4 linked regions of the Homo sapiens genome follow. The protein of the gene in region 1 purifies or fractionates together with the protein of each later gene. This does not show direct contact. Each region holds a gene or a part of one and is shown in the gene's direction. Other genes may lie near its edges.

Evidence for each region. The genes of interacting proteins can lie anywhere in the genome.
Region 2: the proteins of MND1 (region 1) and TOMM34 purify together in Homo sapiens (affinity purification with mass spectrometry; one large-scale study listed by BioGRID and IntAct). This does not show direct contact.
Region 3: the proteins of MND1 (region 1) and NRBF2 purify together in Homo sapiens (co-immunoprecipitation; one large-scale study listed by IntAct). This does not show direct contact.
Region 4: the proteins of MND1 (region 1) and PPP1R12A purify together in Homo sapiens (affinity purification with mass spectrometry; one large-scale study listed by BioGRID and IntAct). This does not show direct contact.

The regions. Positions count from the first base shown.
Region 1 is NC_000004.12:153,347,688-153,351,187, forward strand, and holds part of MND1 (meiotic nuclear division protein 1 homolog), read left to right. Parts: intron 1-2,376; coding exon 2,377-2,442; intron 2,443-3,500. UniProt on the Homo sapiens protein: Required for proper homologous chromosome pairing and efficient cross-over and intragenic recombination during meiosis.
Region 2 is NC_000020.11:44,943,398-44,946,897, reverse strand, and holds part of TOMM34 (mitochondrial import receptor subunit TOM34), read left to right. Parts: intron 1-3,318; coding exon 3,319-3,445; exon of another isoform or gene 3,446-3,446; intron 3,447-3,500. UniProt on the Homo sapiens protein: Plays a role in the import of cytosolically synthesized preproteins into mitochondria. Binds the mature portion of precursor proteins. Interacts with cellular components, and possesses weak ATPase activity.
Region 3 is NC_000010.11:63,150,328-63,152,925, forward strand, and holds part of NRBF2 (nuclear receptor-binding factor 2), read left to right. Parts: exon of another isoform or gene 1-29; intron 30-1,822; coding exon 1,823-1,863; intron 1,864-2,598. UniProt on the Homo sapiens protein: May modulate transcriptional activation by target nuclear receptors. Can act as transcriptional activator (in vitro). Involved in starvation-induced autophagy probably by its association with PI3K complex I (PI3KC3-C1).
Region 4 is NC_000012.12:79,928,598-79,932,097, reverse strand, and holds part of PPP1R12A (protein phosphatase 1 regulatory subunit 12A), read left to right. Parts: intron 1-3,500. UniProt on the Homo sapiens protein: Key regulator of protein phosphatase 1C (PPP1C). Mediates binding to myosin. As part of the PPP1C complex, involved in dephosphorylation of PLK1. Capable of inhibiting HIF1AN-dependent suppression of HIF1A activity.

The DNA.
Region 1 (3,500 bases):
GGGAGAGTGCCTAAACTAAGCCTTGGGAGATGTTTTGGAGTTTTGACTAGGCAAGAAGTGAGGATGTTCTAGGTGGAGGAACATTTTTTTTAAGGATGGAAATGAGAGCATTCTTCGAGTAGATAATTACAGGCAGTTTTTGTATTACAAGTTGCTTAGGTCTCCATACTGTTAATGGCAAAGTTTGAGGTGGGGTGTGGTGGAAGAGGCTATAAAAGGTAGGTTGGGGTTAGGTGATAAAGGGCCTTGTATATCATACTGGGGTACTCAGAAACGTCTGGATGTCTGGGAGCCACTGGAGGGTTTTGAGCAAGGCAGGGAAAAAGGTCTTATTTATGTTTTCCCAGTGCGGAATGTGAACATAGAGGGTGAGTCAAAGTGTGGTTAGGGGACTGGAGGTATATTGCAGGAGATAGATGATGAAGGCCTGAATGAGGCAGTGGTAGTAGAGATAGAACAGACAGGACAGATAAGAGAAATAATTAAATGCTGAAACTGGCAGAACTTGGTGATTGGTTGGATGTGAGATAAGGAGGTGAAGGTACCTAGGATGACTGTCAGGCCTCTGGCTTGGGTCACGAGATAGTATCTGAGACTCAAGGTCTAGAACAGCAAGTTTGTGGGGAGTAGGTATGAGAGAGGAAGAGTTCAGTTTAGACTGACGGAGTTGAAGTTTGTCCAGCAGGCGGGTAGATGCATGACACTGAAGCTCAGGAGCACACCCAGGGGTGAATGTAAAGATTTGAGGTCTCAGCATAAGTGTTAATTAAAACCATGAAAGCAAATGAGATCAAAGATAAGATATTAGGAGATGGGATCAGTAGCCAAACCCAGCAGAAAAACAGTGTTTGAAAGTGGACCGAGGAAGAAGAGAAAAATATAAACTTTAAGCTATTTATTTACCCATATTACTCATCAAGAAACACCTGATCATTTTATTCCTGTGGGAATGAGTTAGTGGGTTGTTGTTTTTTTTTGTGTGTGTGGGCTTTGTTTTGTTTTGTTTTGAGACAGTGTCTTGCTTTGTTGCCCAGGCTGGTCTCAAACTCCCAGCCTCAAGTGATCCTCCAGCCTCAGCCTCCCAAAGTGCTGGGATTACAGGTGTGAGCCACCGCCCAGCCAAGTTAGTGGGTTTCTAGGTTTTACAAGAATTAAGACTCACTCACTCCAGTATGTAGCCAGAATGGCAATTCCAAATCCTTGTCTTCACTTATGTAAACTCACGTTTTCTGATGATGTTTTTGGTTGGATGGGGCAGTCTTTAACTGTTGTTTTATGTCTGCTTTTTAAGCAAACAATTTATATTCCTTTATAATCCCCTACAATTTTTGAGAAAGATGCAGATCACATAAGAAATATTAGTGTGGAGTTTTTTTATTAGAGAACTGGAGGTGATAGTTCTCACTCTTTTTTTTTTTTTTTTCTGTAAACCTTTGGTTTGGAGGAAATTTGGCTCCTTTCTCTTTTAACTTAGGATTTAGCTTTATATATTCTATGTACAATATATTGTAAAATTTATTATTAACATATATTTCAGCTACATATTGTCTTAATTTCAAGTTGGCTAAAGGGTATTACAGAAGAATAACCTGAGTGGGCTTCCATTTTCTACTTGGATAGGCCTTTCCCCCTTCCATCTTCTCTTCCACATTGCTGCTATAATTAACTTAACGAAAATGCAACTCTAATCTTGTCACTAGTCTGCTTTAGAAATTACTCAGCAGCTCCTCATTGTCTAGAATGAAGTCCACTGTCAGCTGGACAGTCAGCTTTCCATAACCTGACCCCACACCTTTCTCATCCCATCTGCCAATCCCCCTACATACTTCATACAATAACTGTCCCCCACTGCTTATCCTTCTGGGGAATTCCATGTACTTCCATAACATTGTGCCTGTGTGTGGTCTCCCCAAGATGTGCTTCTAACCATTTCTCAATTTGCCAAAATCCTTTTAATCTCTGTCCTTAGGTAACCCTTCTTCCTCTGCATAGTGGAATTCATTGTGTTCTGGGTATTTATGTAACAATTGGTGCATGTAGCTGTTCATTAGCTATAAATAGTTGCATCTATATATTTTCTCTGAGAGATTGTAAGCCTTTGGAAGGTCAATACAGTGGCTTATCATTGGTTTACTTTATAAATGCTGAATTTCTACAAAATGCCAGGCTCTGCCTCAATTTACAGTTACCATCTTGGCAGCACCTACCACAGTGGTTGGCAGATAGTAATTAAAATGAGTCTTTAGGTCTGACTTTGAGAGTATCAAACCTGTTGGCATCAGATAAGACCATGCATAAAATTTCAAATGTTGCAAATCCAGTTGTTTTCAAAATGTGTTTAAAAGCATTGTTTACTTGTTAATTTTTTTGCTTTAGTCAAAGAAAAAAGGACTGAGTGCAGAAGAAAAGAGAACTCGCATGATGGAAATATTTTCTGAAACAGTAAGTCATTTTCTTTAACACTTATAATTTTGTGTAATTTTCATCTTAAGTATATGTCATCCAATGTTAACTGTCCCCTCTTTGTTAAACATCAATACTGATCAATTTCTTGAAGAATGGGTAAGATTCTGCAAATATTTGTGGTTCCTGTGAGTTATGGAGTGTGAAAAACCATATCCCACTGTTGGTAGAGTCTCTTTCACCCAAGCAGTCCTGCATACTGGCACCAGAATCTTCTGATGCATATATTTGATTATCTCCTCTTTCTGCCTGAAAAATAATAATGATGAAAGCCCACATCTCCTGAGTGCTGCCTAGGTGCCAACCAGTCTTGGATCTCAAACAATAGAAGCCATAGTTCCAGGATTCAAACCAGGGAGGATCATTTGATTTCAGAGGGAGTACCAAATACTATGTCTTTGCATTTTAAGTCTGTCTATAGTGTAACACACAGTCGATGGTACAGAGGCCTTCATTTATTCCAGATATTTGTGCCTGCCATCAACAGGAAATATGTTTAAAGTTTCATCTCCTAAGTGAAGAGCCAGAGTTCAAACCCAGGTACCTGGCTCTACAGCCTACTGTCTCATGGCTTTACACTGTTACTGGAAGGCTTTTCTATGTCTTCAGGTTAAAGGCCACATAAATCTTTGACCTAAAAGAACACCGACTTCATATGGCTTGGCAGGACCTACAAAGCCTAGTTGGCCCCAGTCTACTGGCTATTTTCATCATATACAAATGTGAAGAAGATGGGGAAAAGTGGTAGAATTGAATATTAAATTGATAAAATCCCTTTTCACTTTAAGGCAGATTCTTAGTAAAAAAAAAAAAAAAAAACAAACAAAATACACGGGATTTGCCCACTAAGTATAATCTTATTGTTCTTAAAAGTCATTGGCAATTCAGAACAGGGTGTCATATTATGATGATGATATGGTTACAAAGATAAATTGGTGAAGTCTCTATGTGAAAATTATAGCAATTCTTCTGCTGAGTTGAAATATTTTTCCTATGGTCTCAGCAAGAAAAGTAAGTTTAATTCCTTCAAGACAGTA
Region 2 (3,500 bases), on another chromosome or scaffold:
AAGCTTCGGATCATTTTGGCAAATTCCAAAAAATGTCTTGTTGGACAGCTTTTGGTTGTGATTGCATTGGATTTATAATTTAATCTAGAGGACTAATGACAAAACAACTTTCAGCCATTGTGGCTAACATTTTATCATGTCCTGGAACGTCTTGGACATAGTCTAATGCTCCACCTCATGTACGCCCATCTGAATGACACAATGCCCAGGCTTTGGCTTACTTTGGCTCCCTTTGTGCAGGTGACATCTGAGTGCATAGCACCTACAACTTGCCAGCCCTGAAACAGCTGTCATAAGAATCTCACTTGTACTCACAACAGTTCTTCAGCTTAGATCATTGTCCTGTGTTACCTAATCAGGCTCAGAAAGATGAATTAGTGACCACAAAGTTAAACAACTAGTACATGGTGGCTGAGATTTAAGCCAGATCTTTGTGACTCCAAAGCTTATTTCCCTTTCACTCACTTGTGTTATTTCCCAACCCCTTTGTAATTAAAACCCTTCTGACTGGATACAGTTACTTCATTTACCAAAAGTCAAGGGGGTTTATTTTATTGCCTGAAGTTATGCATTTTGTTCATCTTAAATATAGTCTTTAGAAGTCTCACATGACCCTATTAATCACATTTCTATTCTGAAGTCACGATACACGGTGGTTCCTCTGCTTCCCAGACACTTGGCTATTTCTTTAAATTGCCAAGCCCATTGGGAGGAAACTTTAATTTCCTTAGAATTCCTCTATGTTTAGAGGTGGCTCATGCCTGTAATCCCAGCACTTTGGGAGGCTGAGGTGGGCAGATTGCTTGAGGTTAGGAGTTTGAGACCAGGCTGGCCAACATGGTGAAACCCCATCTCTACCAAAAAATACAAAAGTTAGCTGGGCATGGTGGCATGCACCTGTAATCCCAGCTACTCGGGAGGCTGAAGTAGGAGAATCGCTTGAACCCAGGAGGCGGAGGTTGCAGTGAGCTGTTATCATGCCACTGCACTCCAGCCTGGGTGACAGAGTGAGACCCTGTCTCCAAAAAAAAAAAGGAATTCTTCTGTGTTCAAAGTTTAAAACGGGCTACTATTCTAAAACTTGGTGATTTACAACAACCATTTTATTTTGCTTGTAATTTGTGGAGTCAGGAATTAGGGAAGGGCAGTTCTCATTTGGGGTCTCTCATGCAGGGTCAGCAAGATGGTAGCTGGGGCTGGAATCCTCTAAAGCCTTCTTCCTCGAATGTCTGGCAGCTGGGCTGCCTGACTCAAATGGCTGGGTGATGGAACTGCTAGAGCAAGCTGGCACCTCTTTCCACTTTCTTAGCAGCCTTTTCATGTGTGCTGCTGTGAGCTTCCTGAGAGCGTGGTGGCCTCAGAGTAGTTGGCTTCTTCCCTGTCAGTTCAAGGCTCCAAGAGCGAGTGTTTCCAGAGACCAAGGTGGAAGCTGCAAGGCCTATTATGACCTAACCTTGGAAGTCACATCGTGTCCCTTCCTCTGTCCTCTGTTGGTCAGAGCAGTCACAGAGCCTGCCCGAATTCAAAGAGAGAGAGCAGATACACCTCCGCCTCTCAGTGGAGGATTGCCAAAGAATTTGTGCCTGTCTTTTAAGTTGTTACAAGAAGATTTTTCTCTCCGTTAATTTATGAATTCCATGCAATCACAAAGGACTAGTAGAATTTTCTTCTTTAAATTCATGATAAGTCAGAAAAAAATGAGAACAACGACATGAGAGAATCTGGTGTATAATAAAGTCTGGGGCAAAGAGAGATTATTTAATAAGAGGTGTTGGGTTGGCCAGGTTAGAGTTAAACTTGAATCCTACCTTGCTTCTTATTTTAAAGTAAGTTCTGAGTGGATCACAGTTTGGAATGTAAAAAGCGAAACCATTAAGTTCTAGAAGAACACATGGATTAACTATCTTGCAGTGGGGAAGGTATTCTTATGTGAAGGGAAAAAAATGTTACAGAAGTCGTTAAAGGAAAAGTTAGAGAAGTTTGATTTCAAAAGATTAAAAACCCTTATTAAAGATGTTCAGCTTTACCCACAACTAAGCAGCTAAGGCAGTGAGATAGTGTTTTATTCCATATTGGCATACATGAAAATTTAAGACCCAAAGTTGGTACAGTTGTAGGAAAATAGGCTCTGTCAATAACTATTCAGCTTTTTTGGAAAGCATTTTGGCAGTAACAATCAGATTTTATTTCTTTTTTTGTTTTGTTTTGTTTAAGAGATGGGGTCTCCCTATGTTGCCCAGGCTGGTCTCAAACTCCTGGGCTCAAGTGACCTTCCCACCTTGGCCTCCCAAAGTGCTGGGATTATAAGCATGAGCCACTGCACCTGGCCAGTCAGGTTTTAAAATGCATGTATCTTTGGATACAGCAGTCCCTTGCACAAGGATGTTCATCATGGCATCACTTATTTACAAACTGGAAACAATGAAAAATACCTCTTGATAGGAAATTGGTAAAATAAATTATGCTACATCCAACTTAGTGAATACCCTGCACCCACTGAAAACAGTGAGGTGGAACAGATGAACTTATGTAATGAGCGCCCAGACATCTGACTGTTTTGTTTTTAGTGACTGTCTTTGGAGAGAAGGACTAGATCTGAATGAGGAAGATATATACACACATGCACTTTTTTGAACCCACAGATGCAGAATATATTGTATGGATGCACATAACTTTTTTCCAACATTTTATTATGAAAATGTTCAAAATATAGGAAAGTTGAAAGATTTGTACATTGAACACCCATAGACCTACCATCTAAATTCTACAATTAGTATTATTACATTGCCTTATCACTATTTAGCCATCTGTTGGTCTGTATTATTGTGTTTGATGCACTTAAAAGTAAATTGCAAACGTCTTTACATTTCACCCCATGTCAGCATTATATCATTAGAGTTCAGTAGTTGTTGGGTTTTTTTTTCCCCCTTAAAGTAGATAATTTTTTAATCTGTCAAGGGAAAAGTTTCAGGAAACCTTTTCTTTGCTTGAAAGAGCTCAGTATAGGAGAGCGCAGTACAGCATGATAGAACTAGATGAGATCAGGATCTGGAGTCCCATGAACGAACGCCCGCCTATTTGAATCCTGGGTCTGCCCCTTAATACTGGCGGTACCTGGCCCAAGTTCCTTTACCCTTCTGAGCCAGCATGTTTCATCCATGAAAAGGGCTAGGATTGTTGTGAGGATTTAAGAAGACATAAAGTAACCAGCACAGAGTAGGTGTTCAGCAAATTGGAGATCACTTCTCAAACTACTGCGTGGCATGTGGGTGGCCCATAAGACGTGACTGAAACCTCTGAAATGGTCTTTCCCTTCAGAGCACTCTGCTATTTGGTCCTGAAGCAGTACACAGAAGCAGTGAAGGACTGCACAGAAGCCCTCAAGCTGGATGGAAAGAACGTGAAGGCATTCTACAGACGGGCTCAAGCCCACAAAGCACTCAAGGTAAAAAAAAATCCTGGCCAAAAGGTCCCAACATAGCTACAGAGATTTATGCCAG
Region 3 (2,598 bases), on another chromosome or scaffold:
ACAAGGGTTGTGGGAAGGATGTAATTATGGTAAGCATAGCTGGAGCAAAGACTGTATAACCAACTCTGTTTTTTCTTTCCTTTTTTTTTTTTAAATTCTTTTTAAATTGATACAGGGTCCCGCTATGTTACCCAGTCTAGTCTTGAACTCCTGGGCTCAGGCAGTCCTCCTGTTTGGCCTCCCAAAGTGCTAGCCACTGCGCCTGGCTCCAACTCTTCTTTTTCTTGGAAAGGGAGCATCTAATTCAGCAGTCCCAACCTTTTTGCTGCCAGGGACTGGTTTTGTGGAAGTCAATTTTCCATAGACCTGGGGTCAGGAAAATGGTTTTTGGATGATTCAAGCACATTACATTTATTGTACACTTTATATTTTACAATGTAATAATAGAAATAAATAATTATACAACTCAACATAATGTAGAATCAGTGGGAGCCCTGAGCTTGTTTTCCTGCAGCTAGACAGTCTCATCTAGGGGTGATGGGAGACAGCGACAGATCATCAGGTATTAGATTATCATAAGGAGAGTGCAACCTAGATCCCTTGCTTGTGCAGTTTGCAGTAGGGTTTGTGCTATGAGAAGCTAATGCCGCTGCTGATCTGATGGGAGGCAGAACTCAGGCGGTAATGCAAGCAATGGGGAGTGGCTGTAAATACAGATGAAACTTCACTGGCTTGCCTGCTGCTCACTTCCTGCTGTCTGTGTGGCCCAGTTCCTAACAAGACATAGACCAGTACCGGCCTGGGGGTTTGGGACCCCTGATATAATTGTATCTTAAAGACTGTGGTAGAACCTAGCAGGCAAGAACTCTTAAGTTATGACATCAAAGCATTAAATTATTTGGATTAAGACTGGACAGAAAGCAATGCCTCGTAGTATCTGCAAAAGGGCAAAAGAGGAACTTAATGTAGGTATGAGAGATGCCAAAAATGTTTATAACAAGCAAGATAAAAATGGAGATTCATTATGGACAATTCATTGATAATAGAGAACTTATTTATACCTAACCTTGTTCCCGAAAGGTTATAAAATGTCTTACAGATGAATGTACAATAAAATATCGAATGTAATTAAAGATACATAGATAAGGACATCCATAGAGAAAATGAGAAAGGACTAGTAGTGTAGTTCACAAAATGTACCATTAGTTCTTGCATATTTTTTTAAGAACTTGACTTAAGTTTTCTAGCAGTCATCCTAAAGAGGAAAGATAATAATTTTTACATTGGCTATTAAAATTCAAACAAATAGTCACCGAGGATCTAAGATCAGAGAGAAGTTTATTGAAGGTCTTCATAAATGACATTATACTGTCCTCAGTAACTTCCTCGCAGTAAATATGTCAACAAGTTCTTAGGGCTTTTAACCATAAGGCTGATGGTTTAACTCAGAGACAATTCATTAAAAGTGATTCTATAGGAGTCCAAAATGATAGATTCCAGGTATTCAGACGGATAAAAAGTCATTGATAATCTCATGATATTTTTGTGAGTATGATGAGTAATAGGGTTTGGATAGGTTCTTGTTTGATTTTTATCTTTCCTAAACCTATTTTTCTGATTAGACCATCTTCAGTTTCTGAATTATAAAATCTGTAGGAGTTTTAAATAACAAAACCTTCAAGATAGGGTAGGGAATATTTTCATTTTATTGCCACTGACATCCTTTTGGGGGAAGTTAAGAATTCTTTTAAAAAATCCCCAATTGTATCAGAGTTATCAGACCAGTTCTCTTTGTCATATGAAGATTATTAAAACTCTTCCTTTTACCTGTTAATTACAAAATGAAGACACATATTAACATGCCTATTTTTTCTCTTAACAGCATATCTTTCTGAAGCCATGAAGCTGACACAGTCAGAGCAGGTGAGACATATTCCCAATATTTGCGACAAGGGTTAGAAAGGTTTTCTTGTGGAGGCTTGAATTGTGTGTAAAGCAAAGCATTGTGTCCCTCTCAAAATGCTATAGTCAAAAATATATAAAATGGGCAAGGGAAGAGCACTTCACAACGGAAATTAAAACTAAATGAACTGCAGTCGATGCCCCAGACATGGAATGCAGAAACTTCTTTTTTTCTAGTGGTTACTCACAGATCTCAGATTGCCAGCCAGATGTACCTTTTAGAGAGCCCTCTTCGGACCATTCCTAATCATTAGCTCTTATTTGATCATTAGCTTACAGTCAGTAAACAGGCCTGGCCAAGAGGAAACTAGTTGGACCACCCTTTGCTTGTCAAAGATAATTTAAATCTGACCAGTCTCCCACTTGTCTTTGCTTGAATTCTTAAGCAGTTCAGGCACTTTTAAATTTGTTTCACCAATTGCTTTAAATTGTCTTCTGTGTTTGGGGAGGCCCTGCCAAGTGTTTCAAGATACATTTATTCATAAGACTGGGCATGGTGGCCCATGCCTGTAATCCCAGCACTTTGGGAGGCCAAGGCAGGGGGATCACTTGAGCCCAGGAGTTCGAGACCAGCCTTGGCAACACAGTGAGACCCCATCTCTACAAAAACTTAAAAAATTAGCTGGGCGTGGTGGCACATGCCTGTAGTTCTAGCTACTTGGGAGGTTGAGGTGAGAGGATCACTGAACACCTGAG
Region 4 (3,500 bases), on another chromosome or scaffold:
ATTTACTTTCTGGTTTTGATCAAGTGTTCTAAATTTCATTGTCAAGAGAAAAGTTTTAGGAACATCACAACCCACAAATATGCTTTTGAAAATCGAATATTTTGCTTTTACTTTAAAGAGCTTATATTTAAAGGTTTATTAATTTGTTGAATGTGCTACCTCATTAGAAGTTATAAAAGATATCCAGTCTTCAGCTGTTCTTTTTGTATAGAAATGTGTCCTCTGTATAGAAGAAAAAGCAGCGTTTCTTGTCAAATTTCCTATCTTAGTCTCCAGAGTAGCCTTTCTCCCCCACCCACTCTACCCAGGACCTGACCCCCAAAGCTACAAAACAGCACAAAGTTAACCATAGATACAAATTTCTGGTTTTTCTAGAACCGAGGTCTAGAGTAGAATTTCATTATTACCAATGGGGCAATAATCAGCTTCTGATTTTATAGCTACCTGGTAGAGTTTTACAGTATGTGATTATATCTCTATTTTAGCATATTTTGTAAAGATTTAAGGAGATTAATAAAGTTATATATAGAATGCCTTATTGCTGATTCTTACTGATACTGGTGTGCATAAAATACAGGGCTGAGATTTTTCTCCAGCAGTTTTGAGTTTAGCCTGTTGATTTTAGCCTTAAAATCTTTTCTTTTTCCTCTGTGCCAGTGACTTCCAAGTCAGTTTACAGTTCCCTCATTTCTGCAAAGCTCCAAGCCTCATTTCCATTTTTTGGGGTTATGTATTGATTTGAAATGAAATATTAAATGTATTGTAATTTTATATTTAATAATGTCTTTTAAGTAGTAATATAGTAAATACAAGTTCACCCCCTTTGCCATAGAATGGCAACTACTGTATTCACGTTAACCTTTGTGATTTCTTCAAAGGATTTCTTATTGTTCAAATATAGATTTTCATAGTTGCAATTCAGTATTATAATTTTACGTTTATCCGTTAACATTAGAGATACTTATCTTTAGACTTTACCAGCATCCTTTTTAACTAATTATTTTAAAAGTATTATTAATTTGGTGGTAAGACAATTTTACATCGTCAGGAATTTCTTTAAATTCAACCTAAAACAGGTCTATCTTTCTTCATCAAGTCTACTCTTCTCATTGATGTTCCTGTTTCTGTTAATGATGTATTAATCTTTAGAATCAAGTTAAACATTTTAGTTATTGTTTACTCATTCCCCTTGTCTATGCATAATCCAGTCTGTCTTCTAGCTCAGTCTTTTCTTTACAATTACCTTGGCATCAGTTCTTTTCTTTGCCACTTTTTACTGGCAACCTAGTTCATACCTTTATTATTTTATTTTATTTTATTTTTTTGAGATGGAGTTTTGCTCTTGTTGCCCAGGCTGGAGTGCAATGGCGCTATCTTGGCTCACTGAAACCTCCACCTCCCGGATTCGAGCGATTCTCCTGGCTCAGCTTCCCAAGTAGCTGGGATTACAGACGTGTGCCACCATGCCCAGCTAATTTTGTATTTTTAGTAGAGATGCGGTTTCTCTATGTTGATCAGACTGGTCTCGAACTCCTGACCTCAGGTGATCCACCTGCCTCGGCCTCCCAAAGTGCTGGGATTACAGGCGTGAGCCACCGCACCTAGCCTTATTTTTATCCCTAGAGTATAGTAATAGCTTAATTGTTTTTCCTGCCTCTATTCTCTCCCTTATTTAATCTAGCATGCATATTGCTGTCATATTAATCTTTGAACAGTATCATTTTGATGGTGTTATTCCTCTCTCTAAATTTGGATATAGTACATTTTATCATTTAGCTTATGGTTGATACATCTCCATTGTGTTGTATCCTTTATAGAAATTGGTTAACTTGCTTACGTTTCAACTAGATCTTTACATTTTTTATTTCCATGCCTTTAGCCATGCCTTTTATCCTCTCTCCCTCGTTTGCCAATTAAAATTCTAGTCATTGTTCAAGATTCACATTCTCTTTTCTGGGGTGTTCACTGTACCTTATATTCTGCCTCTCCTGCAATAAAAACACTTTTTACTGAATAGTGTTTGTGTTTGTCTTCCCTTGTAGCCTCTGAGGACCTAATCTTCCACAATTTTTGTATTTCCAGAGCCTAGCACATAGTAGATGCTCACTAAAGGTTTATTGAATTTTTATCTTTTTACCTCATCAATAGGAAGTTTTAGAGTTATTTTTATGTTGTGAGATATATTTTTGAAACCTTCGCATCAGATACTTAGCGTATTGTTCTTGCACATAATGGAATTTGTGTGATTATGAAACAAATTAAAAACTTTGTTGTAGATTTCAATATATTTTAATATCTTGAGATTTTAAAAAAATCTTTTTTTTTTTTTGAGATGGAGTCTCATTCTGTCACCCAGGCTGGAGTGCAGTGGTGTAATCTTGGCTTACTGCAAACTCCGCCGCCCAGGTTCAAGTGATTCTCCTGCCACAGCCTCCCAAGTAGCTGGGATTACGGGTGCGTGGCACCATGCCTGGCTAATTTTTTTTGTATTTTTGGTAGAGATGGGGTTTCACCATGTTGGCCAGGCTCATTTCGAACTCCTGACCTCAAGTGATCCGCCCGTCTTGGCCTCCCAAAGTGCTAGGATTACAGGTGTGAGCCACTGTGGCCGGCCTAAAAAATTCTTAATATCGACCTCCTTTCTATTAAATTTTAAAGCAGTCTAGATATTGGTTAAGTGGTAGAAAAATATTATATCCAGTTGAGTCACTAATTAATTACTCACTTTGTAAGAGTCTGAGCTAGATCCTCTAGAGCGGGGGTTCACAAACGCTGGGCCGTGGACAGGTCGATCCACGACCTGTGAGGAACAAGGCCACACAGCAGGAGGTGAGCGACACACTGGCAAGCTAGCATTACTGCCTGAAATCCACCTCTTGTCAGATCAGCAGCGGCATTAGATTCCCATAGGAGTGCGGACCCTATTGTGAACTGCGCTTCTGAGGTATCTAGGTTGTGTGCTCTTTATGAGCATCTAATTCCTGATGATGATGTGAGGTAGAACAGTTTCATCCGGCCCCACTCCCCAACCCACATCTGTGGAAAAATTGTCATTCACAAAACTAGTTCCTGATGCCAAGGTTGGGTACCACTTCTAGAGGAATACAAAGTAGAATTAGTTCCATGTTCTATGCTATTAGAATTTTAAAATAGTTTTTCTTTTACTTTCCAAAACAGACAGACTTACAGATAGGTTTAATATGAAATCCTTTTGCTTTTAAAATACAAATTTGATCTACTTCTAAGGGAGCCATTTTAAGCATCTTTGTAAAATATGTGATCCTCTCGTCAGTAAAGGGAATACTTTTGTGTAGTCTTCTTAAGATGTGAAGTGTAAAAGAGACTGGAAGCAATTAATTTTGAGTTGCTTGTTAGCAAATAGTTTGATTACTATGTAAAATCTGAATTAAGAGTTTATAGTTTGTAACTGTTTACCCTTTTTTTGATGGAGAATGTTAAGATCTTGGAAGAACCTACTGGATAACTTTTAAAGAGCATTA